4 linked regions of the Homo sapiens genome follow. The protein of the gene in region 2 interacts with the protein of the main gene of each other region in a biochemical or structural test. Each region holds a gene or a part of one and is shown on either strand. Other genes may lie near its edges. The genes, in order: ESR1, PFN1, WASL and ENAH.

Region 1 (7,700 bases), on a different chromosome or scaffold from region 2:
AAAACAAAAAAAAAACCACCTTTGGGGGGAAATTATCAAATAAAACAAACTCTTTTTAGAATTTTACAACTTTTATGTTAGGAAAAAACAAATACATTTGTGAAAAGCTTAAAATCCAGTAAATGACTTGAGGGACTTGGGGCAATCCTAGGGTGATGAGGAGCAGGTTAGTAACAGTGAAGGACTTAGCACCCCAGGGGGCCAGAGGCTGTAATATACCTTATGAGCAAGTCATTCTTATTTAGTCTTGCCCATTAAGAAGTCTACTTGGACTAAATGCTTTTAAAAATGCCCTTTTAATTTACTATTAAAAGAATATTCCTAGCAGAAGTAGTCTTGGATGCTAAATTCTATTTTAAGAATAACTAAAATTAGAATTCTGTTCTTTTTATAACACCTGTTACACACACACCCCTACCTAGTGTGTCGGAATCAGTTTGTATGGGCTCACCAAAGCCTACTGTTCAATTTTCAGGAGTTTTGTAAGCCATTTGATGTCAGACAAGTGGCCTGAAGTTTGTTATGGTGGTGGTATTTACACCATGAAAATTGGCATGTTATGGTGGTAGTATTTACACCATGAAAACTGCTACAAATAGAAATCTTTTTCTTCTTCTCTTGGAGAGCCACTTGTTGAACACTTACCAGCTCACCTGTGCTTGAAAGTATTTCTTCAAATAAAATGAAAGCTGGTTAGCTTTGAAAATTTTTTGTATAAAAGTTTACACGGGAAAAAAATAAACTAATTTTTTTTTCCACCTGTGTTTTCAGGGATACGAAAAGACCGAAGAGGAGGGAGAATGTTGAAACACAAGCGCCAGAGAGATGATGGGGAGGGCAGGGGTGAAGTGGGGTCTGCTGGAGACATGAGAGCTGCCAACCTTTGGCCAAGCCCGCTCATGATCAAACGCTCTAAGAAGAACAGCCTGGCCTTGTCCCTGACGGCCGACCAGATGGTCAGTGCCTTGTTGGATGCTGAGCCCCCGATACTCTATTCCGAGTATGATCCTACCAGACCCTTCAGTGAAGCTTCGATGATGGGCTTACTGACCAACCTGGCAGACAGGGAGCTGGTTCACATGATCAACTGGGCGAAGAGGGTGCCAGGTAAGAATGCGAAGCGCAGCTTTTAAGAGTCAATAGCTTTTCAAGAACTTGTTGTGATGTCATGGGAGAAATAGTGGGGGAAAAAGAAGCAATAACATGTTATGTAATTGGTTTCAAGGTTACAGGAGATGTGTTCATTTTCAGTATCAATACACTGTAATTTTCCAGGAGATTAGGAAATAATATTTTTAAATCAGAATCTAGAAGACTGAAATTCTTAAATTGACATAATTTATTTTTAACCCATCTCATTTACCAAAAAGATTTAGGGTGGACACTACATGGTAAAACTATTTAATAGTGTATGTTCACAGTAGCAGAAACTTTTAACACTAAATGAACTACAAAAGTTTGTAATATTAATGACCTTTGTTGAAAACATCTCAATTATTAATCAAACGATTTTATCTTAAAAAGATTTTTAAGATTCGGTGTGGTGGCTCGTGCCTGTAATCCTAGCACTTTTTGGGGCTGAGGTGGGAGGATTGCTTGAGCCCAGGAGCTTGAGGCCATCCGGGGCAACGTGGCGAAACCCTGTCTCTACAACAAATTTTTAAAAATTAGCTGGATGCAGTGGCACACACCTGTGGTCCCAGTTATGGGGGAGGCCGAGGTGAGAGGATGGCTTGAGTCCAGGAGGTCAAAGCTACAGTGAACCATGTTTGTGTGGAGTGCCACTGCACTCCAGCCCAGGTGACAGAGCAAGACCGTGTCATAAAAAATAAACCACACAAAAAAAGAGAAAGATCTTTATGGATTAAAAAGATAATAATAAGTGTATTTACTGAATGCCAATTATTTATCCAACCTGGTGTATGCTTAGTGTTTTAGGAGAAAGAGAAAGGCAATGGAAAAATAAATTAAGGTATCATCCCTGAAAGAAACTTTTAGAAAGACACAGTGGCTGAAGTGATACCTTGTTCCTTCAGTTGATTCTCTCAGAACTGGTGTTCTGGTAAAATTGGACTGTTACTCCTGTTATTCAGGGAGAAGAACTCAAGTTTGTATGGCAACAAGACTAGAAAATGACTTTCTCCCTGCCCCAGTGTATTCGTTCAGGAGCTAATGTAGATAAACCGAGGCAAGAAGAAGCTAAATTTTTTTTCTGGGCTTATAGGTTAAATGAGTGATAGATTTAGTTGGAGGTTTTCTCATTTGGTTTCTTTTAATAGATGAAATTAATTGTTTCCTATGAAGCATGAAATGTTTTATATGAAACTAAAAAAATGTGGAGTTTGTACTTGCATTTCAAGGGTCACTGCTCTGTTATAGGCCAAGTGAACTTATGTCTGGCCTTAGAGAATCTTACATGTATTTGCATCTATCAGTATATAAACATGTGGGCCGTAGAATAAGGAGCCAGCAGTACCAGAACCCAGCCTTGTTAGAGGCCACCATTTTGGTGGTTGAGTGGTTATTAGTTTACATGGAAGCATGGAGAATAATAGGCAAATGTAGGTTTTCAGTGTCAGTCGAACTGGCAAACAAAAATTTCTGGTCATCTTCAGAATGAAAAGTTTTCTTGAGTACCTACATATTTTAGCATTTTCATATGAAGCAGATACATTATAAGTTAATTGTTGGAATCTAATTGTAATATGGCTGTAAGTTTTTTCTTTATATTTGTTATTGCCTTGTTCTTATATTATAGGGAAAGAGAAACAAACAAACAAGCAAAGAAACTAATGGTCATATATTTGAGAGCCAACTCTTGGTTGCTGTTCAGTTTTATTTTCCTGTAAACATATATTTTCCCTTATGAAATCTTGGGAATATTAGCTCTGGAGCACTGCTGAACTCAAGTACAGACATTTTCATGTGTATCAGTAGATTCCCATCATGACATTTTTATAATAATGTTGAAGAGCATTTTAAACAACTGGAATTAAGCTCAAATACATTACCAGTGGTTGAAGAATTCACATCAATAATCTTCTGAATTTAGGAATAAAATGGAGAAGTCAAGGAAAGGAAAATATTATACACAGGCTAGCAATAGTTAAAATACAATTATTAAAGCCAGAGCTAGACAAAATTATGGCAATGAGATGTGTAACAAAACCACTCTGTAACTTCATCATGTTCGTTTAAAAGACCTGAATGATTCCAAAATCCTTAGACCAATAAACTATGTCTTCTTACTTGATAATTAAAAAAAAGAATTATAAAGGCAAAAATGAAATTATATGTATGTGTGTTTGTGTGTGTTCCATGGGAATACAGCTGTTGTAAATCAAAGGCCTACTTGCCTGACCAAGCAGAATAAAAATAGTCATTGATTTTAAAGAGACTAAAAGTGAGGGAAGAAAAAAGTCTTCTGCAAAAGCTCTACAGATGGTTGTCAAACTTTTCAGAAAAATAGACAAAGCAACATTTTGAAAAGGATTTATATCTTTTATATATTCAAATACCATCTGTTATTTAAAAAACATAGCCCACACTGAATATCTGATATAGACAATATAACGTTTATGAGATAATAGTTTGAGAATGACAATAATAATAGTAAGTTTTAAAAGAGGAAATAAGCCGGGCACAGTGGCTCATGCCTGTAATCCCAGCACTTTGGGAGGCCGAGGCGGGTGGATCACCTGAGGTCAGGAGTTCAAGACCAGCCTGGCCAACATGACAAAACCCTGTCTCTACAAAACAGTACAAAAATTAGCCAGGCTTGGTGGCACACATCCATAGTCCCAGGTACTTGGGATGTTGAGGTGGGAGAATTGCTTGAACCTGGGAGGCAGAGACTGCAGTGAGCCGAGACCCCACAACTGCACTCCGGCCTGGGCAACAATGAGACTCTGTCTCTAAATAAATAAATAAAGAAGGAAATAGTAAATGTCATTAGTAAGAAGAATAGCAAAATTTCAGTTCTAGAAATACCCAGAATTAGCTATATGATACAAAAACCCTCATGAAACATTTGGATAATCCTCAGAATACCTATCAATATAACAAAAACTATGAATTGACTTCATTTTGAATGATGAATTTTTAACAAAAATAGTCAATACTTTGGGCTTAGTAGCTCTAGAAGTGCTTCTTTCTTCTTTCTTTTAATTAACAGAATATTGTCAGAATTTTCAAATGTTGATGATTATAAGTTGAATTTTCCTTTTCATTAACCCCTGGGGCTTATTTTTTGACTTGATATGTTTCTCTACTCAGAATTAAGATGTGAAGAGCTTTGGGATAGAATGCATCATACAAGTGTGAGAGTCAAGTTCCAATCCATAAAGTACTTCTGGTAGACCTGGATAAAGATGACCTTAAGAAATGATTTTTTTTCTCTTTGCAGTTTAAAAACAACAGTAGCAACAAGAATGATAAAACCTATGAAGCCAGCTCTGACAAAAGATGTTTTTTTTATAACACATACTATGTATCTACTTTTTGATATTTATCTATCGAGAAGACTTTTCTCCTTATTGTTTGCTCTGAAATTTGTTTATATTTAATAGGAATTTTATAGCCTTATCCCTGGGTAGAAATTCAGTTTTTTTAAAAGTAGATAATTAAATCTTAATTTACTATTATTTTACACATGGTGAAACTAGTCAATAAATGTAATATCATTGAGCTGAAGGTTAAAAAGGAAAAAATATGACTGCAAGAGTGGTTGTATTTTTGATTTCAGCATCACACTCAATTGCATCATTGAGTGGTTCATTCTTAGTTTCAGTGTTAATGAAATACATCTGAGTTTTTTTCCCCAGAAGCTTGAATTGTGTCACCAAAGTGTCATTTTGATTTATTGAAAGTTAAGCCCTTTCCAAAATTCACCATAATTTTACATGTCTCGAAAGCAATTTTATACTTCAAGTCTGTGCTATAGTTCTATATATTTTATGAAGATTTGGATAGATATCTAGCCCTGAGTTTTTTATTGCCTGTTAAATACTTATAACCCAAAGTGTAGCAGCCTCATGAACTGCTGCTGGGCACAGATCTGGGAGAGTGCACTCAGAGTGTTGGCCCAGGAAGAGGAAAAGAGGAAAAGGGGCAGTTCAGTGGCAGCTTGGCTTCCTGTGAAACATGTCACCTTAACCACTTCCTCATTCTTTTAGTGGCAAACTAGACGACCTTCTCCTTCCCCTTTCCTGCCGAGTCCCCCTCTAATCAACACTCTAGAAGGCCCCTCTTCCTCCTCAGTCCTGACTCCCTGTCATTTACTTCAGGTTGCCTCCTTGCTCAGTTTTGGCCCCAGGGGTAGGCAATCTCCTCTTTCTGGACATGTCTCCCACCAGCCCCAAGTTCAGATTTCTTGGAAGTTTCTGTGTTGTCTCGAGGATGCATGGTTGTGTGAGTTATTCCAGGGCTCAAGGCCTCTTCTGTGTCTGTATTCCCCAGGAATCCAGGAATTCACTTCTCTGCCTCTCATCCTCATCCTCATCATTAAAATGAGCAGATTTGAGCTCAGGAAGTGCTTGAATAAATGAATAAATGAACAAATGAAAGGTGATTTTTGAAAGTCTTAATTTTAAGAAGTCTCTGAGCCCTGTTACAGCTCAATTTTCCCATAAACTAGAACTGCTCTCTAAGGCTGTGACATTTCTCCTTTTTCCTCTCCTCAAAATCTACCTGCTGTTCTGATATCTCCCTGACAGCCACCATAGTGAGATTCTATTTCCATTTCCAATCTCTCTTTTGTAAGGGACAGAGAAACAGCTAGAGAAATATGGAGCCATGCGCTCTGAGGACTTTAGCAGGCTTCAACTCTATCTGCAAGTGAGTTTCACTTAGCGAATGAAATTGGAAACTTAAAGTGGGTAGGGATGAGGGTTCCCGGAGAAGGTGTAATACCTCAGTCTGGGAATTGGGAGCATCTACAAGGAACACACTCAATTCTGGGAGGTTCCTGTAGATTTCAGAGATTTAGCAGGGCTTCCCAGCACTCTGCTTCCCAACCTGTCATTGGACCAGTAAACCCTGCTCTCAAACTGTTGTGGTGTCCAGCATGCTTTGGCAAGGTAATGAAAGATAACATGACATGGACATATGGGTGACATCCTGGAGAGATGACAGAAGCCTCTGTTTAAGGACAAGATTTGCCATTTAGATTTTGCACCCACTGTATAATAAGAGCCTTAGGATTGGGCTGGAATCGCCCTAGCAGGCATGATGGCAGCCCCTCTGGACTGGCAATATGCAGCTTTTTTGCAAGTGTTCCATGTCCAAGTCACCCCACCCAGCTTTCTACTGCTCCCGTGGAAGCTCTGGTGAAACGCAAGGAAAGCAGCTGCTGTTGACTGGATTTTTCTTTCACATGAAACTTTGAAGCCTCATAGATGCTTATTGGCCTGGATGCTATTAAACCTTTAAAAATCCCTTTCTCATCTTGAGAGTATTTGAGAAACATGTCTGGGGCATTTTGCCCACCCTCCTCCAGGTTCTGTGTCAGTGAGTGATATGGTTTGCCTGTGTCCCCACCCAAATTTCATCTTGAATTCCCATCTGTTGTAGGAGAGACCCATGGCAGGTAGTTGAATCATGGGAGCAGGTCTTTCCCATGTTCCTGTGATAGTGAGTAAGTCTCAAGAGATCTGATGGTGTTAAAAAGGGGAGTTTTTCTGCACAAGCTCTTCTTCTCTTGTCTGCCACCATGTGAGATGTGCCTTCCACCTTCTGCCATGATTGTGAGGCCTCCCCAGCCACAATGGAACTGTAAGTCCATTAAGCCTCTTTCTTTTGTAAATTGCCTACTCTGGGATGTGTCTTTATGAGCAGTGTGAAAACAGACTAATACAGTGAGTCTGGGTCAGTGTGTGTTTATGTTGAACGTAGTGGACTTGTGGTGTCCCCAGGGCACCCTGTGGGGAATGTTGGCCTGTGGCTTTGCTACTTCCAGGGGGATTTGGCATGGAGAATGTGTGTTTTAAGTAATAGATAGATTATGATTGAAGTGTGTTATGGGCTGAGTTGTCTCTCCTCAAAAAGACATGTTAAAGTCCTAACCCCCAGTATCTCAGAATCTGACCTTCTTTGGAAATAGTGCCTTTATATAGGTAATCAACTTCAAGTGAAGTCATTAGCACAAGCCCTAATCCAATAAGGACTGGCATTCTAATGAAAGGGGAAATTTAGACATAGAAACAGACATGCACAGAAGAAGATGATATGAAGAGACACAGGAAGAGGACGGTCATGTGACTGGAGTGCTGGGTCTGCAAGCTGAGAAATGCCAAGGTTTACTGGCTAACATCGGAAACTAGAAGGGGCAAGAGTGGACTCTCCCCCTCAGAGAGAGTATGGCCTTGATTTCAGACTTCTAGCCTCCAGAACTGTGAGGCGTACATTTCTGTTGTTTTTGAAGCCACCTAGTTTTTGATACTTTGTATGGGAGCCCTAGGAAATTAATACAAAGTGTATTAAAAATAGAATTTTCTTCTATTGTATTTTTGAGGCAAAAGAAATAAGGAGCTATTGATTTAAGGAGGAAGGTTTGGCTCATCTAGTATAGACTTGGCTAATCATTTACTCTTGTATATTTCTCTTCTGCCTGCCCAAGTAGTTCACTGAACAGGCTTAGAAGTTGATTTATAATTGTAAGAGTTTACACATCAGAAGTTAATTTATAATTGTTAACAGTTTCA
Region 2 (8,129 bases):
CTTCCCACCTCCTTTGGTTCCTTAGCCCCAGCTCCCCTTGTTTTTCCTGGGCCTTCAACAGATCCCCCACTGTCCCCTCCCTCTTCCCCTGTTATCCTGGTCTAATAACCCCCCACACATACACCTCTGGTGACCTATTTGCACAGACCGTCGTCTTCCCTCCAGTCTTCTGAGGGATAGGGGACATTCCATCCCAAGCTTCTCCCTTACCCACACCTATCCTTTTGAGGGGCTTTGGGGTGGAGCTGGGGCAAGCAGAGGGACTGGGTCTTCACTTCTTGGGCTAATAAAATTGTTTCTTTGTGGACTAAGGAAGGGTAAGATCATTCTCACACAGGTGAACTTAACCCTTTGGTGGAATCACCCCTTTAGCCATAAGGAGCAAGGGAATGCTGAGAGACACTAACCTATAGTCATGGGGACAGCCCCAGCCGGCATTTGCTATGACTCAGAAGGGGGAGCCCCACCCACAAGGATGACTCAACTAGCCCTGCCTTGCCTGCAGGCCTGCACCCATTCTCTGGTCCAGATGGCTCTATTCCATCATCCACCAATTTGACCAGCACACTGAGGACTTAGGCCTGGAAATGCCACTGTGGAGGGGCAGGGCCACCTGGCCAGAAGCTCAAATTCCTGCACCTTGTAGTACCTCAACCTCCCTGCTCCCAAGCCACGATAAAGGAGGCAAGTCACAGTGCCTATCCCCCATTCTGACACCCAAGCTCAAATCACACAGCACCTTGTTAGTAGAATCTTTTTTATTCAGAAAAAAAAAACCCCAAAAAACAAAAGTTTTCCAACCACACACGGGAGGGATATGGGTAGGGGGAGGTGTCTGTCCATCCAGCCCTGGCCCCCAGCCCATGTGGTTTTGGCAGCAATAAGGGGTATGGGGTAATGGCCCAAAAAATAAAATGGTTTGTGTGTGTATGGGGAGGAAAGGGGTGCAAAGCTGTGGGGAGCGGTGAAGGGGAAGGGACAGACGAGGTCAGTACTGGGAACGCCGAAGGTGGGAGGCCATTTCATAACATTTCTTGTTGATCAAACCACCGTGGACACCTTCTTTGCCCATCAGCAGGACTAGCGCTGGAGGAGGAGGAAAGAGAAAGGAGGCTAGGATCCAGGTGTCACAATTCCACCCCCTGCCAGCTGTTCAGCAGCTGTCCAGCCCTGGGGGCTGTAACCCAACCTCATCTCTCCCAACCCGCCCCCCCACCACACACAGGCAGGCTGTCAGTCACCCTGAAACAATAAGGCTTTTCAAAAGAGGAAAATCAAGCTTAAACGCTGGAGAGGAACAGACTAAAAACTTAGGGGTCAAAGGCTCATAGACTGTTGATTCATGTGTTCAGGCTAGAAAGGGCTGTGGATGTGCATGCCACCTCCAGGTTCTAACAAAAGAACTCAAACGATGAACTCGATGATTCAAGACCCCAACAATCTACCTATACTCCTAGAAAACAGTTTCTAATCCGAGCTCAAGGCAGTAAGTAATTTAAGAGGTAATGCAGTTCAGCAACTTCGAATTACAAGATGAGGAACTGAGACAGAATGGAGGGACTATCCCGTGTTCCAGCATCCAGCAGACAAGGAACACAATACTGGTCTGACTCCCTTCATGTTGGGGAATCACACAAAAAAGCACCCTCAAGATTACCAGAAGGCGGTACATTAGAGATCTTGGAGCTAAAGGAAGGGTAAGACTCAGGAACTCACTCTTGTCAGTCTTGGTGACAGTGACATTGAAGGTGGGGGCCCCACCGGTGCTCTTGGTACGAAGATCCATGCTAAATTCCCCATCCTGCAGCAGTGAGTCCCGGATCACCGAACATTTCTGGCCCCCAAGTGTCAGCCCATTCACGTAAAAACTTGACCGGTCTTTGCCAACCAGGACACCCACCTCAGCTGGCTGGAAGAGGAACCAAGCGCCCATCAAGTTAGTCAGTGCACCAAGATTCCCACCGTGTTCTCCAAAGACCCACCTGTCTTCCACTTCTGAGAACCACCCCGCCGTGGGGGCTAAGTATAAATTATATACTCAGTACACATCAATGAACTGTGAGAAACTCTGAGGACTGTGGGACGTTAGTGCAGAAAAAGATCATGATTCTGAAACTTAGAATATGGAACCAGGGAGGAAGGGATGACATACTCCTCTAGAGATTTAGATGTCAGTGTTAATGGGGAAAGTAAACCCAGGAAATAAAGGGAGTCAGTGAGGTAAGTGAGGAGCCTTTGGATGCTCAGAACTCTCCTTCAGGAAAAGCAGAAGCGGAGAGGGGAAGGGAGGGGGGCGGGCGAGGCAAGAGAAGCAACTTTGCCCTTATTTGGTCAAAGGTTCTGCAGGAGCTGTTAGGGCCCGGACGCCTGGGTCTCCAAGTAACCTAGAGTTTAGCTCCAGGTATCTCTGCTCTGAGATGAGGAAGCAGACCCCTGGGGGCTTTCCGGGAAAGTTGGAAAACTTTTGAAGGTGGACAGGGGCCAGACCCGGCAGGCCAGCTCTCGGGTCTAGGTACCCCGGGAACCTTTCCCCCCTCCCCCTTTCACCCCAAGCCCCCACATCCGGTCCCCTCCCGCCCGGAAACCCCCTTCCCCCCCCTTTTGAACTTCCGCTCCCCCTCCCCACTTCCGGGCAGTGTGGACAGGGAGATGGTGGTGGGAGCAGCGGTAGTAAACCAATATACTTTCGCTTATGCTGTCTCAGAACTTCTCACAAAGTTCCCCTGCTCCAGGCCCCGCCGGATGGCGGGAAGGGAGGGCGAGGGGACTTCCGGGATTGGCCTCGCAGGAATGTTGAATCCAACGTGCTGAGCTGGGGGGGCGTGTGGTGGCCTCGCCCTCTCTAACGGAGTTAGGAGGGGCCAGAAGCCCACAGAGGGTGGGCAAGGGACCAAGACCACGCGCCTGGGGCTCCCTTCCGCACCAGGAGAAACAATGGTAGAGGGACGCGGGCTGGCAGCCGGACGGGGAGCTGGGGGTCCAAGGATCCCCGGGTCCCCTCTCAATCCCAATCCCCAGTAAAAACTGAGGCGCGTCCCCGCCCCGCCCTGGGAGAGGCGGAAGTGGGCCGCCGCACCGGGCGCCGCGCCCCTCCCCGCCCTGTGCCCCGGATGTAACGCCCCGTCGCGGAAAGCGGGGTAGCGGGCGGGATGGGCGCCGCCGCCTGGGGCATAGGACCTACGGGCAACTGAGGGACCCACTCACGTGCAGCCGCCATTCGCGCCGCTTCCAGGGCAAGCACCCAGTCAGGGCCTCTCGCTGCGCGCCCTAGACCGCGCCCGCCCCCACCCAAGTCCCTCCCTCAGGGTCCAAACCGGAGCAGTGCCCCGGACCGCGCAGGCCTCGCAGTACCGTGATGTTGACGAACGTTTTCCCGGGGACGGCGGCCCAGACGGAGGGCGAGTCCTTGTAGCCCACGATGGCCGCGTCCTGACAGGTCCCGTCCGCCATGAGGTTGTCGATGTAGGCGTTCCACCCGGCCATGGCGCTGCTACTGGGGCTGCTCTCGGCGCTGCTGCTGGGGCCGCGGACTGGGCTCGAGCTGCCTCGGCTGGCGGGCGGGGGGAGGCGGAGAGCTCGGGGCACGCGCTGCCGTCCGGACCGCGGCTCCGCTCGCTGTGCAGCAGCCCTCGCACCGCCACTTCCTGCTCCTCCCCCCCCCCGCCCCGCTAGATTTTTATTTGCAAAGGACGGTAGGGGCGGGGCCTACTCCCCATTCCCTCCCTCCCCCACTCGCCAGCCCAGACACCGAACTTTGCAAATGCAATTTTAAAAATCCCTCCCCCTATTGCAAAATTTGCAGAGTTCGATGGAAAGCAATGCAGAAGGATGGGGGGTGGCGGGAGAGAGGTGAAGGGTAGGGTTTGCTCCAATTTGCACTGAATATAAACCAGACTTTGGTATCGGGGCAGGGAGTGAGCCAGAAGAAGGAAGGAAGGAGAAAGCAGGAGGAATTAGCAAGCTGCAAATTTAGCAAATTAAGGAGAGTTCGGGGAGCCCAGGGTTAAACGGGATGACTCCTCCTTCCCCCACCTCCGCCGAAGGGAAGGACCGGCGGGCGGCGGCGCGTGTGCCCGCGCCTGCGCCTGCGCCGGGGCCGGGAGTGCATGGGGCGGTCGGGGCCGGAGCCGGCTGCACGGGAGCGCGCCCGGCCCGACCCGTGTGGACCCTGCGGGAAAGGAAGGCGGGCTGGGGACGTGTCTCCCGCCTGGCGGAAGGGGCGGGGGCGAAGCCGTGCGCGCTGCCGCCTCACCACCCTTGATTTTACTTATTCAAGTAATAAGAAAGCAAAGAAGAGTTTGGCCAAATCCTCTAGTCGCTCTCATAGCTGAAGGCACCCACCGGGGCCACTTCTGTCCCCAGCGTCTTCTCGGGTCGTGCAGGTTGGGTTCACCAGGGCCCATTCTCAGTCTAGAGGATTGTCCCTTCTCTGGATCGGCTCTAGCCCAGGGCCTCACCCCACATCCCAGCCCCGCCCGCCCCAGGCAGGCAATGTCTGGATCACCGGCCGTGCCCCTTGGCCTGTGTCTGCAGAGGTCACAGAGCGCGGACACCCGCGGGGCTTAACAGGCGGGGCTATTTTTCGAGGCGGAAGAATACTCAAGTTGCAAGAGTGGCAACTTTTTCAAGAAGGGGAAAGTCCCACTTCGGGCCCTTTGGGTTTCTTCGCAGTCAGATGTGCGCTCACAGCCACCTGGGGAGGGCGGGACGGGCGGGACGGCCGTGCGGCGGCCGCGGTGAAACCGCCTCCTCCGACCCGCCGCCGAGGGCTGGGCGGCTTCCGGAGCCTGGGCTAGGGGCAAGGGGTCACCGAGCGCGGCCCGGGCGGAAAGGGGGTTGGTTTTCTCTCTCCTCCCGAGCGCGGCGCGCATCCCTGGCGTCCACGCCGAATCCCACAGTCCCCGACGCCCCTCGAGTCCGTGTTCCTCGACAGCCGCGCGGCTGAGTCACTGGCGGGCTCGGGCGGGGCCGCACCCGGGCACGTGGCGGCGCTCCCCGCCCGCCATCTCCTGACCCCTGGCCCACCGCACCCCTACCCCAGGGTGGAAAAATCCCGGGAGGAGCGGCCTGAGATGAGGGGGCGGGGCGAGAGGGGAGACTGGACGGGTGGCGGGGCAGGTGGCCTGGGGTGGGGGCTGGGAGGCCGCGCGGGCCGGCGGGGCGGGGAGCAGGGGTGGGGAGAGGGCGGCGGGGGTGAGTCACCGGGCGCGCGCTGCCCCGGCGCCGACGGGAAGGGCCTCCGAGTCGGGCCGAGGCGCCGTGTGTCCCCCGCCGGTCGGCTGGTATGGCTGCAGAGGAGCTCGGGGCAGACCCCGCACTGGCCCCAGAGCCGGCAAAGTGGAGATCTCTACCGAGGGCAGAGACCTACCTCCCCGCAGTGCTACAAGTGGGGCGCCGGAAGAGCCCCAGGCGTGCAGAAGCTCACAAAAGGCCACCCGTCCTCGGTCCATTCATTTTTGTTCACTGTTGATTCAGCCCCATTCATTGATGGGCTGGGGCCGTGCGCTGAGCGCCCACAGTCGATGGGGAAAGGGGCTCTGACCGACAGTCCCCACGCCGGGCGACAAGTGCTGTCCCAGCGTTATCAGTCGGGCGCCTTGCCAGCCGAAAGGGCCTGTCTAAATTCGTTTCCTGTCCCCTAACTCATCCCGGCGCTGGCTGGCCTGGAGAGGGTAGGATGGGGCGGCGCCGAGAATGGCCGTTATGAGGACCCTAAGAGGTGAGACCCTCTCGCCTTCTGGGGTGGGGGGTCCCGTCCTTTCCCCCACTGAGGACAGAGGCCCGCCCAGCGATCTGAGCATGTGTGGACGTCAATCTTGCAGCCCCTCTTCCAGGCCCCCTCCCCAGCCTTGCAGGGCTCAGGTTACCCCTGGCCTTTCCTAAAGGTCACTCATTCCTCTTGACGTTTGCAAAAGGGGAATGTAATCCTGGGGTGGGGGGAGACCCCTCATCTGTAGCCCCTCCCTTGCTCCTCCCAAAGGGTGGAATTAGAACAGGGACTGTTATTGGGAGACAGAAAGTGGGGGATAGTAGTTGACCTTTGGTAAGGGGGCAGGTGCCCAGGGCCAGAGGCTTCTGCTTCAGGCTGTAGTGGGCACTTGGCTGCCAGCCCAGTGTGAAGGGGGGAGGATGGAGAGAAAGAGAGGCGGGGCTGGCTGGGGACCGAGTGGCTCAGGGATAAATGCGCAGCCTGAGAGGGGGTGAGCTGACACTGTCCCAGCTGCCACCTAGACTCGGAGCTCCATCCAAACCTCCAGCGAAGACATCCCAGGTCGGGTGAATCTTCCAGCCCTGGGGGTGGAGGTAGTAAAGGGTGAGCATGGTATTGGCTTGGAGGAAGTGGGGGACATTTCTGCTTTTTTTCCTCCTGGGACTGGAGATGCTTGAAAAAGCTGGGGGAAGGGGCGGCTGGAGCAAGCAGATGGGACAAACTCTGGGAACACCGAAGGATCTAGGGAAAGGAGGCTGTGAGGAGGGCAGCAGGGATGGATAGAAAAGGGCAGCTAGAGCTGGAACCTGATAGGGAATTGGGGGCCCAAGGAGATTTCGGAGCAGGAAAATGAGAACCAGAAAGGATTTGAAGGCCACCAGCCATGGAGAACAGACTGCTTGACCAGAGGGGTGGAAGGAGAAGGCCTAAGTGGAGGCTTGGGGGAGGTGGGGGCTTGGTGAGCGGTGGCATCCCAGGAGCTATAGATAAGAGGCCCCTGGATTCTTAGGATGGGAGGGTGGAATAAGAGCTGTTCTGAGTGGGGGAGGGGGCTGCGCCTGCCTCTTTGGTCTGTGACCTTTTTGTAGGGTATTTTTAGCTCCAGCACCTGCCTTCTTGGAGTGGGGAAGAATCTTAAAGGGCAAGGGATTTCTGGTTCCTTAAGAGATCAACTGTCTACACTCACTCACACCTCCTGTCCTGCAGCCATGGCCATGCAGAAAATCTTTGCCCGGGAAATCTTGGACTCCAGGGGCAACCCCACGGTGGAGGTGGACCTGCACACGGCCAAGGGTAACACAAGGCCCATTGGATAGGCTCGCCTCCGAAGACCCCAACCCTTTGGCCTTTGCCCCCCAGTTCTGTGCCATATCCTCTCCTTTCTCTCGGGTTCCCTTTCCCAGACTTCTTCCCAAGCCCCCTTCTTCCAACGTGGAACCAGAGCTGGAAGCTAGGAGAAGCAGGAGTCTCTCTCTGCACTGCCTCCTGTCCCTGAGCTCAGAGAGGACACCTCAGCCCTTTGAGAGGTAGAGAGACTCCCTGTGAGGTCCTTTTTTTTGTTTTGTTTTGTTTTGAGATGGAGTCTCGCTCTGTGGCCCGGGCTGGAGTGCAGTGGTGCAATCTCAGCTCACTGCAACCTCTGCCTCCCGGGTTTAAGTGATTCTTGTGCCTCAGCCTCCCAAGTAGCTGGGATTACAGGCCTGTGCCATCACGCCCAGCTAATTTTTTTTTTTTTTTTTTGAGATGGAGTCTCACTCTGTCGCCCAGGCTGGAGTGCAGTGGCGCGATCTAGGCTCACTGCAAGCTCCGCCTCCCGGGTTCACGCCATTCTCCTGCCTCAGCCTCCCGAGTAGCTGGGACTACAGCTAATTTTTTGTATTTTTAGTAGAGATGGGGTTTCACGGTGTCAGCCAGGATTGTCTCGATCTCCTGATCTCGTGATCCGCCCGCCTTGGCCTCCCAAAGTGCTGGGATTACAGGCGTGAGCCACCGCGCCCGGCCTCAGCTAATTTTTGTATTTTTAGCAGAGACGGTTTCGCCATGTTAGCCAGGCTGGTCTTGAACTCCTGATCTCAAGTGATCCACCTGCCTAGGCCTCTCAAAGTGCTGGGATTACAGGCATGGGCCACCGCGCCCAGCCATCCCTGTGATCTTCCAATTCCTCCTGTCCCAGGCCGATTCCGAGCAGCTGTGCCCAGTGGGGCTTCCACGGGTATCTATGAGGCTCTGGAACTAAGAGACGGAGACAAAGGCCGCTACCTGGGGAAAGGTGAGGAGACACCAGCGCAGAAGGAGCCTGTGTGGGCGGCTTTAGGACATGGGTGCACAATGGGTAGAGGACTGGAACCCCCAAGGCTCTTGAGGAGCTGGGGTCCACAGAAAGGGGCCCAGTTGATTGAGCTCCAAAACTCATCCTCTG
Region 3 (7,700 bases), on a different chromosome or scaffold from region 2:
TTAGGCAGAAGTATACTCAGTACTCAGAGCTCTACCTAAGAATTCAAGAAATGAAACAGAAGCAGTTATAGTCGAAGCTCTGGAGGAGCTTCATTTCTTCTTTCATTCAACAAACATGTATTGAATAAATGTTGAGGTCAAAATCTGGAAGGGCTGATACTTGTCCTCAGGGAGCTTACTAGGTCTAAAAAGGGAAACGTGTAAACTGATAAGTCAGTGCTTCAGAGTGATGTGTAAGAGGCTGCTTTTCACAGTAGAAAATGCCTTGGCTTTGTAACAGCAAATGTGGGTTCAAACTGGGGGTCACTTTGGACAAGTTTCTTGAGCTTCCTATCCTAGATTTGGTTTTCTCATCTGTAAAACAAGGATACTATCTCATGGGGTAGTTGTGTGGATTAAGACTGTGTATAAATATATGGAAACTATTTTTATAAAGGTTTAGGGGATTAAAGGAGAGAATGGTGGGAGAGAGGATGATTAAAAGCTTTTTAAAATGGATAACTGATTATTTATATTTAAACAGGTACTCCCTAGGCTGATGAGAGGTATGAAACAGCTTGAAAAGTTAGGAGACCTACTAATAAGTTTGTTAGGTTTGTTAGGGAGCAAGGAGGGCTTCTGCTTGGGCTCTCAGATTTAGGTATGAATTGGAATCATTGTGGAGATTATGAGAAATGCATATGCCTAGGCCCAATTCCTAGATATTACTCAGAATCACTGGATCTGAGGTGAAGCTTGGACATGTCTATTTTTAGCAAGCTTGACAGAAAATTCTAAAGTATATCACAGTTTGAAAACCACTGCTAAAGTCCACGTTGTCTGATAGGATAATCCTTGAGCACATTGGAAATCTTAATAGATTTTTCTTCAATTTTTGGTCTATATTTTGCAAATTGAAGCTAAATTAAGTTAAACCAAATTCTTTTAGTACAGCATTTCTCTCACCGCTGAAGATACCAGTGTACATTTCACAACTAAGAAGGAGATACAGTTGGGGAAGTATTGCACTATTTAATGGGGACTCACAAGATCATATTTGACTTAGAAAATTTTCAGGGGAAAGGTGGAGGCAGTATAGAAGGTGGATTGAGGATTGTGAGGGAAAGACAAGGGAAATCAGATAGTTGATTTATAGTATTGCAGGTGAAATATGATGAGGGCCTGAATTAAGAGAGTACTTTGGGAATTCAAGAACAATTAAAGTCTCCAGCAGAAATTAGTCCCAGTTATATATAGAAGGTGAGGGAAGGGAGTTTCAATAAAGGCAGGCATTATAACCACCAGCAGAAAAAGTACACAGAAACATATTTTTATTCTCATTCGCTGCAAATATGCCTAAATGTTAATGAGACTCTGGATTGGTGATTGGCTTCATGGAGGAGGCAGATCATCAGTAAATCTTTTGTTTTACCACAGTTTCTAAAAATTCATTTTGTGGAAATTGAGATTTCATTGTAATACATAAATACATGATATGTACTTTTACATAAATAGTTCTGATGCCATTCATTAGCTGGTAGTATTATGAAGGGAGAATGAGAAGGTTATAAACAAGATTACTAGGTCTTATTTTGTAGTTAGATCTGTTGCCTTTCATGTAGTGTGATTCAGTTAATTTTATATAAAGAGTATGTGCAGTTTTGCTAAGTGAAGTTCAACATATATAGTCCTGAATAAGTGAGAAACTAAGGAATAGGAAAAAATAAAACATTAAACTACGTCTCTACAGCCATATCTGGTTTATATGGATTGGGGCTGATAATGTTATTGAGCATTATCTTTCCCTGCCATACTCACCTGGTTTGTTTTTTCAAGATTTAGTGATACTTAAGCCATTTTTATTAATCAACCTTAATCTTTATTTCCTTTAACTCCTCAGCACTTGTTTTAACTTGCTTATTTTCTTTAGTTTTTTGTTTCCTCACTATATATAATTCTTGGAGATAGACTTTATGCCTAGGTAGTCTTCTATAATTTTTGTAACTTCTGGCTCCCAGATCAGTGAATACTTATTGATTGATTGAATAATTATAATTACTCGTTTATTTTTTAGGAGCTCATTCTGCGTTTCTTATTGCTTGATTAGGTTGTTAAGCCCTTCAGTTTCTAATGCACATGGTATCTGGACTTTAGTCTTCATTTATTAAGCGACCGAAATGGTTTAGTTGTGCTGCTGAACTAATATAGGTGGTAACAGTTGTCTAACAGTAGTTTGTTTGTGTTCTAAATCAGACCTGTTGGGTAGGGATTCTTACATAGGCATACAGGGAAGGATATGCTTAGAGGGATCATTGTATTGATGATGGCCTGAGTAAGGCACTGTTGGTGGAAAGTTTAGACCGGGAATGTATTTCACCTTGAGTAGTAAGGAAAGATAAAAGTTAAAATTCACTGGATTTGGAATATACAAAGATGAGAAGATACCTTTGTCTAGTATAGAGGAAAAAGATGAGCACAAAAATGTATGTGACGCAGCGTAGCTGTAAGCACAAGAAGAGATTCAGAAAAGTCCAACAGGGTTGGGTTATGAATTTTACTTCTGGTTATTCTTAGCTCTATATATATAATACAGGGACATTTCTTAACTAGTCTCAGCCTTCATGTCTAGATTTGTAAAATGGGCTTAGTCAAGGATTTCAAAGAGTAATTCAATCATTATGGAAAATACTTAGAGTCCATGACACAAAGTATTCTGGGAGTTTGGAGGAGCATATGAAAGAAAGTTGTTATGAATACTATTCAGTGCTCAGTTTAGATTTCCTGTTACTGGCAGGGAGGATTTAGAGTAAAATTTTCAGCTCTATATTGTATTTGTTTTGACTTAGGTAAATTAACAATTTTAAAGTCAGTTAATTATAGGTGTGTAAATTAAAAGTTAAGGAGCAGCTTGAATGTATCTCTTTGGGGAGTGTCTGGGCAGCCTGAGCCTCCCTGGCTGCTAATTGAAGAGGAAGAAAGGGGTCCTGATGAAAAAGTTAGGAGTTCCTGAATTTTAGTCCATGCTCTGCTACCATACATTGTGAATATGAACAGGAATTTTTTTTTTTTTTTTTTTTGAGACAGAGTCTTGCTTTGTCGCCAAGGCGGGAGTGCAGTGGCACGATCTCGGCTCACTGCAACCTCGGCCTCCCAGGTTCAAGTTATTCTCCTCCCTCAGCCTCCCAAGTAGCTGGAACTACAGGCGTGTGCCACTACCCCTGGCTAATTTTTGTATTTTTAGTACAGACAGGGTTTCACCATGCTGGCCAGGCTGGTCTCGAACTCCTGACCTCAGGTGATCTGTCCGCTTCAACCTCCCAAAGTGCTGGGATTACAGGTGTGAGCCACTGTGCCTGGCCATTTCTCCCTTCCTGAACTTCACTTTTCTAATTTGAAAATGAAGGGTCAGACAAGATAACTCCACAGTCTTTCCAGCTTTAATGCTTAATCAGTTTAACTATTCTAGATTCCAGGGACTCTAGCAGGGAAAGAACAGGCCTAATGTTAACTCTAGCATATATGTGTTTTGCACAGCCGAGACTAATATAGCATATATCTAAGCAGAAGGTAGATAATCCTGAATTATTTCATTGAAAATTCCCATTTTTAATTCACCTTTTTCTAAGCATTGTAATTTAATAGGCATTTCACTTTTAAAACAGCAGAGTGAACAGAATAAAAAAGCATTAGTAGTAGAATTACCAACTCTTAGCTAACTTAGAATTATTATTTGTAATTATAATGTATTTTTGGGTTATTAGAAACTGCTTTTTTGGTTAAGATGGAATTATTTTTAAGAATTTCTCTTTTGTTAACCAATTCCATCTAGAATCCTAATTCTGGATGAAATTGTATTAGTGATATGATAGGTGTTACATGTTACTGCTTATTTTCCAATATTAAAAAAATCGGTTTTTAGTTTCAGTGGTAGACTTAATAGTTATAGTGAATTGACTTGGTTACTTTAGAGACTGATTCAAGATTGAGGTTACTGTGGGGATTCATTTGTGTGATTAAAATAATCTTGGTTTTCTTAAATTTTTTTGTAATGCACTGGACAACATGCTGAAATTATGGCTTATTATATTAGTGAATTTTGTATTCCTGAAACAGCATACCAAGAGACACTAGAACCTTTGACAGAACTTTTCTGAAACCCAAATGAATGCCAAAATTAGGCATGCTTTTAAGATGCAAAGGGCTGGGTTTTATCTTTTACTGTCTTTCTTGCTTATTCAACTTCTGTTCTTGCTGTGCTCTGGATATTAGAAAGCACAGCTCTTGAGGAAAAGATGTGACTGGGCCTTTTGAACAGTGTCTCTTTCACCAAGTTCTGCCAGTCACTCTTTGGCCATCTCTCTGTTGTGGACAGTTGTAGGGATTTTATTTAAAATATACTATTTTTTTAAAAAGTTATCTTTTAATGTAAAAATTGTATCTATGAGTAATATCAGATTATAAAGTCTGGAAATAAAGTCTTGATTAGAGAGCAGGTTTGATTAGGACATTCAGGATTCCTCATAACATATAGAATTGGAGCTACTTAAGCGTTGGCCAAAGTACAGAGGAGCCGGGTTCTATTTGTTTTGCTGCTGAGCAATTCCTACCATGTGTATCAGTATTCTAGTCTTCTATAGTAAGATTTTTAAAAAGTCTTTATAAAAACTGGTAAGAGCAAAACTTTCCTAAGGAAATGCATGCTTGTAGTAATCTCATGTATTTCACTTTTGTCCATATTCTATAGATTTTTTAAATAAATAATATTAATGGAAGTATAATGGTAGCCCATTCTAGTTTTGAGTAGAAAAACAGATTTTAAAAGAGCAGATAAGGGTTGAACTTTGTTATAATTTATTCTGTCTAGAAGTCATAGCTTTCCTAATAGAGTTCACTCTTACTCTAAAGGTTCTAGAAACAAAAGTTTATACATTCATAGTCACAGTAATAGGATATACATTGTTAACTATAAATATAATTCTTATAGGTCACCTAGCATCGTTGATGGATTCTTGGAAACTGTGACTTTAGGTGAAACAACACATAATGAAACCAGTTTTACCATAGGGTAATTGATATAAACAAGAGCTAAGTTTCTGTAGCATATATCACCAAACTTCTAAATAAAGACAAAAACACTTCTAATATTAATTAATGAAATAAATGTGAGCTGTAACACATTTAAGAAAGAGTAATAAAAACAAGATAATTATTTACCCAGTTACTTCACTTCAGTCTCAGGTGGCTGGAGCCTATCCTGGCAGCTCAGGGTACAAGGCAAGAACCAACCCTGGACAGGACATCATCCCATCGCAGGGTGCACTCATACCTACACCCACAACTCACTCGCACACTTGCTCATCCTGGGATAATGTAGACAGACCAGTGAACCTAACATGCACATTTTTGGGATGTGGGAGGAAATCCAAGTACCCAGAGAACCCAATAGACATGGGGAGTACCTGCAAACTCCACACAGACAGTGACCCCAGCTTGAAAATGATTTTCTTTTCTCATCAAAGTTAATAATGGGCTGGACGTGGTGGTTCACACCTTTAATCGCAGCGCTTTGGGAGGCTGAGGCAGGAAGATCACTTGAGGCCAGTAGTTTGCCACCAGCGTGGGCAACATAGACCTAATCTCTACAAGAAAAAGTAGCTGGTAGTGGTGGCCCATGTCTGTAGTCCCAGTTACTCCAGAGGCTGAGGCAGGAGGTTCACTTGAGCCCAGGAATTCAAGGATGCAGTAAGCCATGATGAGGGCATTGCACTCCAGCCTGGGCAACATAGGAAGACCTGGTCTCTTAAAAACAAAAAAAAAAGTTATGATGAAAGGACATTGAACAAAATGATGTTGAACAAAAGGATGTTATTTGAGGACCTGCTGTATTAAGTATTTAGTAATTAGGAGACATTTGGCATGCTTAACCATATTCATAAATATAGTGTAATACAAAATAAATCTTATTTATTGCATCTATGTTAGTAGTCTCAGAAGTATTCGAGAGTTATACTGATATAATAGCATATAGGAGAGTAAAACTAATTAGAAAACATTATTTTCTCATAGGAGTTAATGCACTGTAGAGGAATTGTAACCCTTTTTTTAAAGAGACCAAATAATTGACTGTAATGTTGAAGAGGTAAATACAGAAAAGCCCCTCAAGAAAATGTGATCAAATGAAAGATATATATATAAAAGATAATATATGAGATATATCTGACATATGTATGAGATATATATGTCTTATCAATCAACTCCTTTACTAATACATAAACTGATGCATAAACTAGCTAGAAACTGAAATGATTTTTATTAGTGAAACGTAGTCAAGTCTTGAGGACTTACTAAGCACATAACACCCTCCCAGTATCTTGGAATATGAGGGAGCAGTAAGGAAAATCCAGGTTTTACCCCTCAGTTATTCACTGTATAGCTGAAGAAGACAAAAATTATGCACAAAAAGATATATGCTGCAAACCAGCATATATATATATATATACACACACACACACACACACACACACACACACACACACATATATAAATGTATAAAAGATTTGAATAATAGAGAGGAGAGATAGGTATATCATTGTGGGACTTGAATATGAAAAACCTTAAATAGCCTAGAGAATTGATGTCAGAAACAAGCAGCTTATCAGGTACAGATGCTCTTCTACTTATGATGGATTATGTCCTGATAAACCTGTCGTAAGTTGAAAATGTTGTAGTCAAAAATGCATTTAACACACCTAACCCACCAAACATTATAGCTTAGCCTAGCCTTCCTTAAATGTGCTCAGAACATTTACAATAACCTACAGTTGGGCAACCTGATGTAACACAAAGCCCATTTTATAATAAAGTGTTGAATATTTTACATAATTTGTTGAATACTGTACTGAAAGTACAAAACTAAATGGTTGCATGGGTACTCAAAGTATGGTTTCTACTGAATGCATATTGCTTTCGCACCATTGTAAAGCTGAAAAATTGTAAGTGGAACCATCATTAGTTGGGGAGTGTTTATATCAGGAAATGTGTAAACAAAAGTTTGGGATAGAAAATGTGTATAGAATTTTAGGAGGCATTGAGGAGACTGGTTGGCTAGAATTGAGAATGACATTTGCTTGGGCAGATAGTGGATGGTAAGTTTGAAGAGTAAATTGAGGCTAGATTTTGGAAGACCTTTGAACTTCAAGTCTTAAGGATTGAACTTTATTCCCTAGAAAGTAAGGAAACACTAAGATTTCTTCAAGAAATTTCAAGATAGGAAGGATCTGGAGAAAGAAAATTGGAAATTATTATTCATAATAGAAATAAGGATTGAGTAATACTTTATTGTTTACTAAATTTCTTATTTATTAGTTCAGCACATCAGATCTGACTAAGAAACCTGGAATTGTGGCAGCTTCTAGAGCAAGCTTGTCCAACCTGCGGCCCAGGATGGCTTTGAAGGTGGCCCAATCCAAATTCATAAACTTTCTTAAAACAGTTTGAGATTTTGGGTTTTTTTTTTGCAGTTTTTTGTTTTTGTTTTGCTCATCACCTATCATTGGTGTTACCGTATTTTGTGTGTGACTCAAGACAATTCTTCTTCTTCCAATGTGGCCCAGGGAAACCAAAAGATTGGACACCCCTGATGTATAGCAAAAAAAAGGACTAAGTCCTTGATGTATGTGTCCATGGCAGACACCAACAATCACAGCATTTTTTCCTACTGA
Region 4 (7,742 bases), on a different chromosome or scaffold from region 2:
TAAGCAAAATATTAACAAGTAAATCTATATACTGCATTTTACTCAAATGCCTATGACCGTTTCAGGAACATAAACTATTATTCAGTTCTCTTCTGTATAAGATTATACACAGTGATCATGCTATTCCTAAAATTAAAGTCATCTGACAGATACCACTAATAGTTATACCGTAATATATTCATCATATCCTCTGTTCAGGATTCTGACCGACTTAATTGGAAATTCCTGTTCAGGCATTCCTATTTCTGGATGGCCTTTGAAACATCAGAACTACCTCTTAATATAACCAAAAAGGACTCAACTTAAAAGACTAACATTAACGTCCCACAGGACTTGAAAGCATGAAGACTAAGCATATATTAATATAACCTGAAAAGCACTTCCTAAGCACCAAAATATCCCAAAGAATATTCCAAAGACTTTTGCAAGCAGCACAAGAACGTTTTATCCCATACCAATCTCACTTTTACAGGTATCTAAGCAAATCTAAGTACTACCTAACCACCTGCCAAATAATCCAGTACCTTCCAAAGTGAAAAGCTGACCCTCTTTCCTGCTCTTATTCAAAATTAGCCTACGAAGAATTACTGTAGACTGCTTAAATAAACTTTTCAGACCTGTGTACCAAGTTCTATATTTACGTTACTGGAAAACATCAGCGTGGTTCCTCTCTCTCTACACTTCATAAGGAACAGAGCAAGAAAAGAGCTTGAAAAACAGAAGTTACTTTTTATTAGAAAAGGAATTTTCAAGTGAAGACATAATTTACCTGTGACAGACTGACATCTATACATGACAGTGATTAAACTTCACTGAATACCCAAAACGGTAACTTTTTTTTAGTTCACAATCTTTGAATTAGACAACTATTCCTGTTTTTATTTAAAAATAACCCACTTTCGGCCAGGCACCGTGGCTCACGCCTGTAATCCCAGCACTTTGGGAGGCCGAAGCTGGTGGATCACGAGGTCCGGAGTTGGAGACCATCCTGGCTAACATGGTGAAACCCCGTCTCTACTAAAAATACAAAAAATTAGCCGGGCGTGGTGATACCCGCCTGTAATCCCAGCTACTTGGGAGGCTGAGGCAGGAGAATCGCTTGAACCCAGGAGGCGGAGGTTGCAGTGAGCCGAGACCGCGCCACTGCACTCCAGCCTGGGCAAGAGAGCAAGACTGCATTTAAAAAAAAAAAAAAAAAAAAAAAAAAAAAACTTTCCCTGTTTTATATTTCTCAATGTTAAGATAAGTTTACCCAAAGTTTGAAACAACTGATAACTTCTGGTCTGCAAGATCCCTACGGCATTAGATCTCTAAAACAGAAACCAACAACATATAATATTACAAGATATAACAGTATGTATATTATAGTTCCTGAGTTTAAGGACATCAGTAACTTGATTTAAAAAAAAAGAAGTCATGCTCAAACATACGACTCAAAGTTTTCAAGCCATATTTTACAAAGATTGTGTTTTTTGGTTCGTATGCTATAATTACTATTTAAACTCATCGCTTATATTTGAAAATAACTTGTGTGAAATCATCAAGGGAAAAGGGGTCAGTCGCCTAGAGACACCACATTAAACTCACTCTTTAAGGCCATCATAAATACAGGTAACTTGGAATCAGAAAAAAAAATTCAAATTCACAGTAAGCCTAAGTAAAAATTCAACAAAGATATATCACAATATATATATAAAAGCAAAATGGAAACACGTTTAACCTTGATAGAAAAAAAAAATGAAAAGCAAAGTTTAAAATGGAAACTACCGAAATTGAGAAAGAATTCCAATGACATGACATTTTCTTGCCAAAGCGAAGGAATTTGTAGATTATATCATTCAAATCTCATTGTATTACATTATAAAGGTCTTAGCAACGGTTGGCCATTAATCTTTAACACAAAGGAGATTCAAATCCAAATGAACTGTAAGACTATCTCTTCCAGGAGAGAGAAATGGAGTAATTTACTTTATCCACAATTGTTTAACCCAAAAGGAAGGCCTTTAAGGATGATAACGCAGAATGGATCAGCCTTCAGTCTACCAAGTCCCATTTCACACGAAGTCTTGCACCAATCCGAAAAGAGAAGGTTATGGACACAGAACAGGTTTAGGAAAGGCTGGAAAAAAAATCTCCAATGAATGACACACCACATCACGGTTTATTCTCCTACACAATTTGAGAAACAATAAAGAAAAATATCATACCATATGTTTCATCGTATCAATTAAAAAAATATTTTACGACAGTACATTCAATTCTTCGGGGCCGCAAAAATAATTTAGCTCCTGTTTTATTGAGTACAGAGCAAAGGGAAAAAGCAGCTGCTGCAATGCAACACAGGCTGCTACAGAGAAAGGGGAGAAAAGGCTTTTCCAAACAGATCCCTTCCCCGCCCCCGCTTACACACCCCTACCAACTTACTTATCCCAGTCTTTTACTGCCCCCACCACGTGAACCTAATCAATTCTTTCCCTTCCCCCACCATCGTGAAATTTCACCTTTCACAGCTCCTTCACCTACCCCTACCAGAGGCACTTTATTACCCGCAGAGATTTCAGACCTTTCAAACTTTTCTTCCTTTTTTAATTAAACACGAGAGTTCGGAGGCAAAAGTGCATGAAATTTTTACATATATACGAAAAAATACCTGTTTCCCAGCAACACGCACGCTTCGATTCTCGAACCCCTCCCCATCTCCCGGGTTTCGCTTGCAAAGGCTTGGGGGAGGGAGCCAGGCGCAAATTAAATTTAGGAAGGGAAATCCTGGGTGAAAGAAGAGCATTTGAGGAAAAATGAGAGAACGATGAAGCGAGACCCCCAAACCACACGGGTTGGGGAGGTTTCCAAGAAAGAAAGAGAAATTGGAAGGGACAAAAGGCGGAGGGGGGAGGAACAGACCGGAGACCAGGGGAGACGCGCCGGGCCGGGAGAGGGAAGGCGGGGTCCGAGGAGAACGGGGGTCGCGGCTCCCGCGGCACAATGGCCCGCCCGGCCCCCGCCCCGCGCGCCCCTCACCTCATGGTGCCGGCGGCGCAGAGGCTTCCCCACCAGCCGGGAGACGCAGAAGGCGCCGAGCCGAGGGGGGGGTCTCTCCTCCAGGGGTGGGGAGCAGCTCGGAGACGGGAGACAAGTGTCCGGCTCCTCCTTCGGCGGCCAGGGGGCTACACCATCTCCTCGCACAAAGCCGAGGCGCCGGCCGGGAGTGTGGGAGAAGAGGGCGAGAGAAAGGCTGGGGAGGGGGCGGAGAGGCCGAGGCGCGGAGCTGGTCCCCAGGCGGCCGCCGCCTCCCACCTCCTCGTGGTCCTGCTCCTCCTCCCGGAGCTTCCTCGGCCGCCCTCTGAGGGGTGCCCGCCGGGGCCGCGCGCCCGGCCGCCGCTCCACAGGCCCGCGCTCGCCGCGCCGCCGCCGAGGCCGTGTGCAACCGGCAGCTGCTGCAGCCGCGGGAGGAGAGTCGGGATCGCCGCGAGGAACCCGGGAGGAGGCGGGGCGCGCGGCGGAGGAACACGCAGGCGCCGCCCTCCTCCCCTCCTTCCCCCGGGGGCGAGGGGGCGGTGCGGGGGGAGGGGAGGAAAGGGGAGGCGGGGGGCCGGGCGCACTCCCCCGCGCCGGCGGCCGGGCCCCCGCCGGACTGCGGAGAGCGAGGCTGGGAGAGAGCGAGCGCGACGGCGGCGGCGGCGGAGAGAGGCTCTTTGTTGCCTCCCTACCCCGCCCCCTGCACCCCTCTGGGATTCGGGCGGGCCACCACCCCCCCCTCCCGCCCAACACCTCCGGCCAGTTGTCGGCCGGGGTTCCTCGCCCGTGGTTGTCCTTGACCGTCGGCCCCCTCCCCGTCGCCTCCCGCTCCCCAGAGGCTTGGGGAGCTCCGAGGCCTCCCCCACGGCCACGGTGCGGAGACCGAGGCGCCGAGACCTCCTGGGCGCCAGACCCGTAGGCACCGGCGTGGGGAGCTTGGACGCGTGACTGGGCACAGGGCCGGGCCAGGAGACTCCGGGTCGGCTCGCGGCCGGGTGCCCTCGCGCGGGGCGAGTGCTCAGCCCGCCCTGTTGCGGTCTCAGGACGGGGATGAGGGAATCGGGGGGCATCCCGGTCAGCCCAACTGCCCGCCCTCGCCGCGGCTGCGCCCAGCGATTCCTGCGGAGTTGAGGAGGGGCATATAAATGGAAAATATGGTCATCATTGTTCCCTTCGCTCCTTTTCTTCCCGAGGAATCCCAGCGTGCTGCGCCGATGGAACGAGTTGATGTGCACACTAGGTATAGGGATGACTTCATCCCCAAACGAACGCAGCCGACTCTCGGGGAAACGCAGTCGCCGGGAGACGCGCGCGGAACAGTGTGTTGCCGCAAGAGTGGAAGAAGAGAAACGCAGCCAGTGGAGCCGCTTTCCAGCGTCATTAGCAAAGAGGGAATCCCGGGCAGGGGGCGGGGAGAGAGAGGAACTAATGATAATTTTAAATTTTTCGTCATTCCCAATGGTCTTGAAGTCACCTCCCTTAAAAAGTAGATATAAAATACTGGCGAGGCAATTTCATTTCAAGTCAAGTCGGGGAGGAGGGCATCCAGGAAGCCAGAATTGATCGTTGTTGAAGGTTTTGTTTTCGGTTTTTTTTAAATCTAAAAACAAATCCAATAATAAAATTTTTAACTGTACGAATTACGGCCCCCTTTTAGTCCGGAAGACAGGGATGTACTTTCTGTATAAAAGGTGAGGAGGATAGAAAAGGGTTGTTGCTACAGGGATCCTATTGCTGAAGGATCTCATCCAAAATGGAGGACCTACCATGACTCCAGGAATCCATTCAAAAGTTTTGGTGTTTTGTTTTAAGATGCAGGTACCATTCAAAAGATAGTTAGGAAGGTTGGGATAATGTACACTTCCAAATGAAAAGACAGGTTATAGTGATCCGTGGTCAATGCCTGATTTGTCTATAATTGAACTGTGTAGCCCATTTTTAACCATAAAAAAAGCTTCCTGGTTTCAGCCGGGTGCGGTGGCTCACGCCTGTCATCTCAGCACTTCGGGAGGCTGAGGCAGGCGAATCATCTGAGGTCAGGAGTTCCAGACCAGCCTGGCCAACATGGCGAAACCCTGTCTCTACTAAAAATAAAAAATAAAAAAACAGCCGGGCGTGGTGGTGCACGCCTGTAATCCCAGCTGAGTCAAGAGAATCGCTTGAACCCGGGAAGAGGAGGTTGTAGTGAGCTCAGATCACACCACTGCACTCCAGCCTAGGTGACAGAGCGAGACTCCATCTAAAAAATAAATAAATAAATAAATAAATAAATAAATAAATAAAATTCCTGGTTTCAGAGCTCAATACCGAGTTATTTTCTTTTTGGAACCGGCAGCCTTAGACCAACAGCCCTATAGAAGCAGTGACCCGGAGCTATGGCAGAGGATCAAGGTGGCCTCAGGTAGTAGAAAGCATGATGCCTCTGCCTTAAACATGGTGTACTTGAAGAACGCTAATTTCCACCCACATATCTAATTACAGCTTACCATTACAGAGGGCATTTTATTCAAGGATCTCCAACCACTGGAGAGAAAACAAACTTGCCAGTCAAATGTTCTAGTTGCCATATTGCAAGTAGAGACAGGGAAACATAGAGCTCAAGTAACTGGATCAATTAGTGCAACAGGCATGATTAAAAATCATAGCTACCAACTATGAGGGTCATTGTCTTACGTAAGTTTCTCCCTGTAGTTTGAAACACATACCTCAAGTATTTGAACATGTGCTGTGGAGAGTTTTTTCTTGGAAAAATTAAGACATATTGAACCATCTTGGAAAAGTATTAATAAAACATATTCGACCACAGAGAAGTCACACCAATTTGCCTTAGTCCATTCATAGCAATACAGTAAATCCGACAGAGCTTATGTTTCAGGGAAAACTCTTACAAAGGGCCAAAAGGGGTGGAGAGAGTGCTGTAATGACTCAAGCTATCTCCTGCCAGACACAAGAAACAAGGATAAAAATTCCTTACAGATGACTCCATAACCTACTTCTCATTTGTGAAAGTTAATCCATCCTGCGCTAAATAAGTGATATATCACATCATCTTTATTCTAACAGCAAATGTTCCAATGGTATGGGCACCAAATTAAGCAATCCAAGTGGAAAATGCTGTTCTTATTTTCTATGTTTATTAAAAATGTACCAGCCAAGAATTTTGGCTGCCTACAACCATTTCCATCCTTTTGGATGGCAGCCTGCCAGCTCACAAGTTGGTCATAGCATTCATTGCCTTTTGGATTTAGATATTGCAATGGGTGGCCTGACCCCCAAAGGTCATTCTGTGGAAGGGCAATTTGTTGGCTGTGACAAAATGTTATTGCTTCTTGTTCATATTTGGTTTAACATTCAAAGAGTGCAAAGCGATACTTGAGGTAGGAAGTCACAGACTAATTCTGGTCACAAAGGAAATGCTGTGGAATGTGTTACCATATAGAATAAAAGAATTTTAGAGATGGAAGGAATCTTCGGTCCAGCCCACTCATTTTTCAGAAAAGAAATGTGAGACCCAGAGAGGTTAAGTAACTTGCCCACAACTTAAACTCAGGATTTCCAAATCTTGGTCCATTGTTCCTTCGACTATATCAAACTACCTTCTTATGGGATGAGAGTGCACTAAGGCAATAAAAATTAAAGCTGATTCTCTTCTCATAAACTCTGCTTAAAAATTAGGTCTGGGCCTGGCATGATGGCTCAGGTTTGTAAACCCAGCACTTTGGGAGGCTGAGGCAGCAGATCACTTGAGCCCAGGAGTTCAAGACCAGCCTGGGCAACATGGCAAGACCCCATTTCTACAAAATTTTTAAAAAATTAGCCAGGTAGCCAGGTACGGTGGCTCATACCTGTAATCCCAGCACTTTGGGAGGCTGAGGCAGGCGGATCACTAGGTCAGGAGTTTGAGACCAGCCTGGCCAACATGGTGAAACCCCATCTATATTAAAAATACAAAAAATTAGCCAGGTGTGGTGGCAGGTGCCTGTAATCCCAGCTACTCCAGAGGCTGAGGCAGGAGATTCACTTGAACCCGGGAGGCAGAGGTTGCAGTGAGCCGAGATTGTGCCACTGTACTCCAGCCTGGGAGGCAGAGGTTGCAGTGAGCTGAGATTGTGCCACTGTACTCCAGCCTGGGAGACAGAGCGAGACTCCGTCTCAAAGAAAAAAAATATGAGCCAGGTATTGTAGCACGCCCCTGTGGTCTCAGCTGCTCAGGAGGCTGAGGCAAGAAGATTGTTTGAGCCCAGGGATTCGAGGCTGCAGTGAGCTATGATCCAGCCACTGCACTCCAGCCTGAGAGACAGAACCTGTCTCTAAACAATTAAAATTAAAAACTAAAAATTAGCTGAGATTGTGTTGGCTTGGCTGAATAGTGGAAATCATTTGAACTCTTCTCTCATAAGGGTTGCTGGCCCAAGGCCCAATGGCTGGCCCATCATGTAGGCACCTAGGTATTTAAAAGGTGAATGAATAAATGAGTGAATGACTTCTCTAATTAAAAACTATTCATCAAAAGAAATATACTCTGTTGTTAACATCAAGTATATAGACCTCAACTTTCTCTTAGATAAACTTTTACCCATGCTTTTTTTTTTTTTCGACCGACTCTTGCTCTGTTGCCCAGGCTGGAGTGCAGTGGTGAGAGCCCTGCTCACTGCAGCCTCCTCCCAGGTTCGAGGGGTTCTCCTGCCTTAGCCTCCCCAGTAGCTGGGATTACAGGCGCCCGCCAC

The links.
Region 1: the proteins of PFN1 (region 2) and ESR1 form a complex in vitro, tested with the Homo sapiens proteins (one study listed by BioGRID).
Region 3: the proteins of PFN1 (region 2) and WASL form a complex in vitro, tested with the Homo sapiens proteins (2 studies listed by BioGRID).
Region 4: the proteins of PFN1 (region 2) and ENAH form a complex in vitro, tested with the Homo sapiens proteins (one study listed by BioGRID).

What each region holds. Positions count from the first base shown.
Region 1 is NC_000006.12:151,943,402-151,951,101, forward strand, and holds part of ESR1 (estrogen receptor), read left to right. Parts: intron 1-771; coding exon 772-1,107; intron 1,108-7,700.
Region 2 is NC_000017.11:4,944,912-4,953,040, forward strand, and holds PFN1 (profilin-1), read right to left. Parts: upstream 3,620-8,129; 5' UTR 3,484-3,619; coding exon 3,352-3,483; intron 1,910-3,351; coding exon 1,717-1,909; coding exon of another isoform or gene 1,496-1,716; exon of another isoform or gene 1,087-1,495; coding exon 989-1,086; 3' UTR 741-988; downstream 1-740. Other genes in the region: E3 ubiquitin-protein ligase RNF167, read left to right, coding at 1-105; ENO3 (beta-enolase), read left to right, coding at 5,695-5,719, 6,917-7,003, 7,884-7,979. UniProt on the Homo sapiens protein: Binds to actin and affects the structure of the cytoskeleton. At high concentrations, profilin prevents the polymerization of actin, whereas it enhances it at low concentrations. By binding to PIP2, it inhibits the formation of IP3 and DG.
Region 3 is NC_000007.14:123,738,693-123,746,392, reverse strand, and holds part of WASL (actin nucleation-promoting factor WASL), read left to right. Parts: intron 1-7,700. UniProt on the Homo sapiens protein: Regulates actin polymerization by stimulating the actin-nucleating activity of the Arp2/3 complex. Involved in various processes, such as mitosis and cytokinesis, via its role in the regulation of actin polymerization.
Region 4 is NC_000001.11:225,649,668-225,657,409, forward strand, and holds the start of ENAH (protein enabled homolog), read right to left. Parts: upstream 3,295-7,742; 5' UTR 3,024-3,294; coding exon 3,019-3,023; exon of another isoform or gene 2,698-3,018; coding exon of another isoform or gene 2,651-2,697; intron 1-2,650. UniProt on the Homo sapiens protein: Ena/VASP proteins are actin-associated proteins involved in a range of processes dependent on cytoskeleton remodeling and cell polarity such as axon guidance and lamellipodial and filopodial dynamics in migrating cells.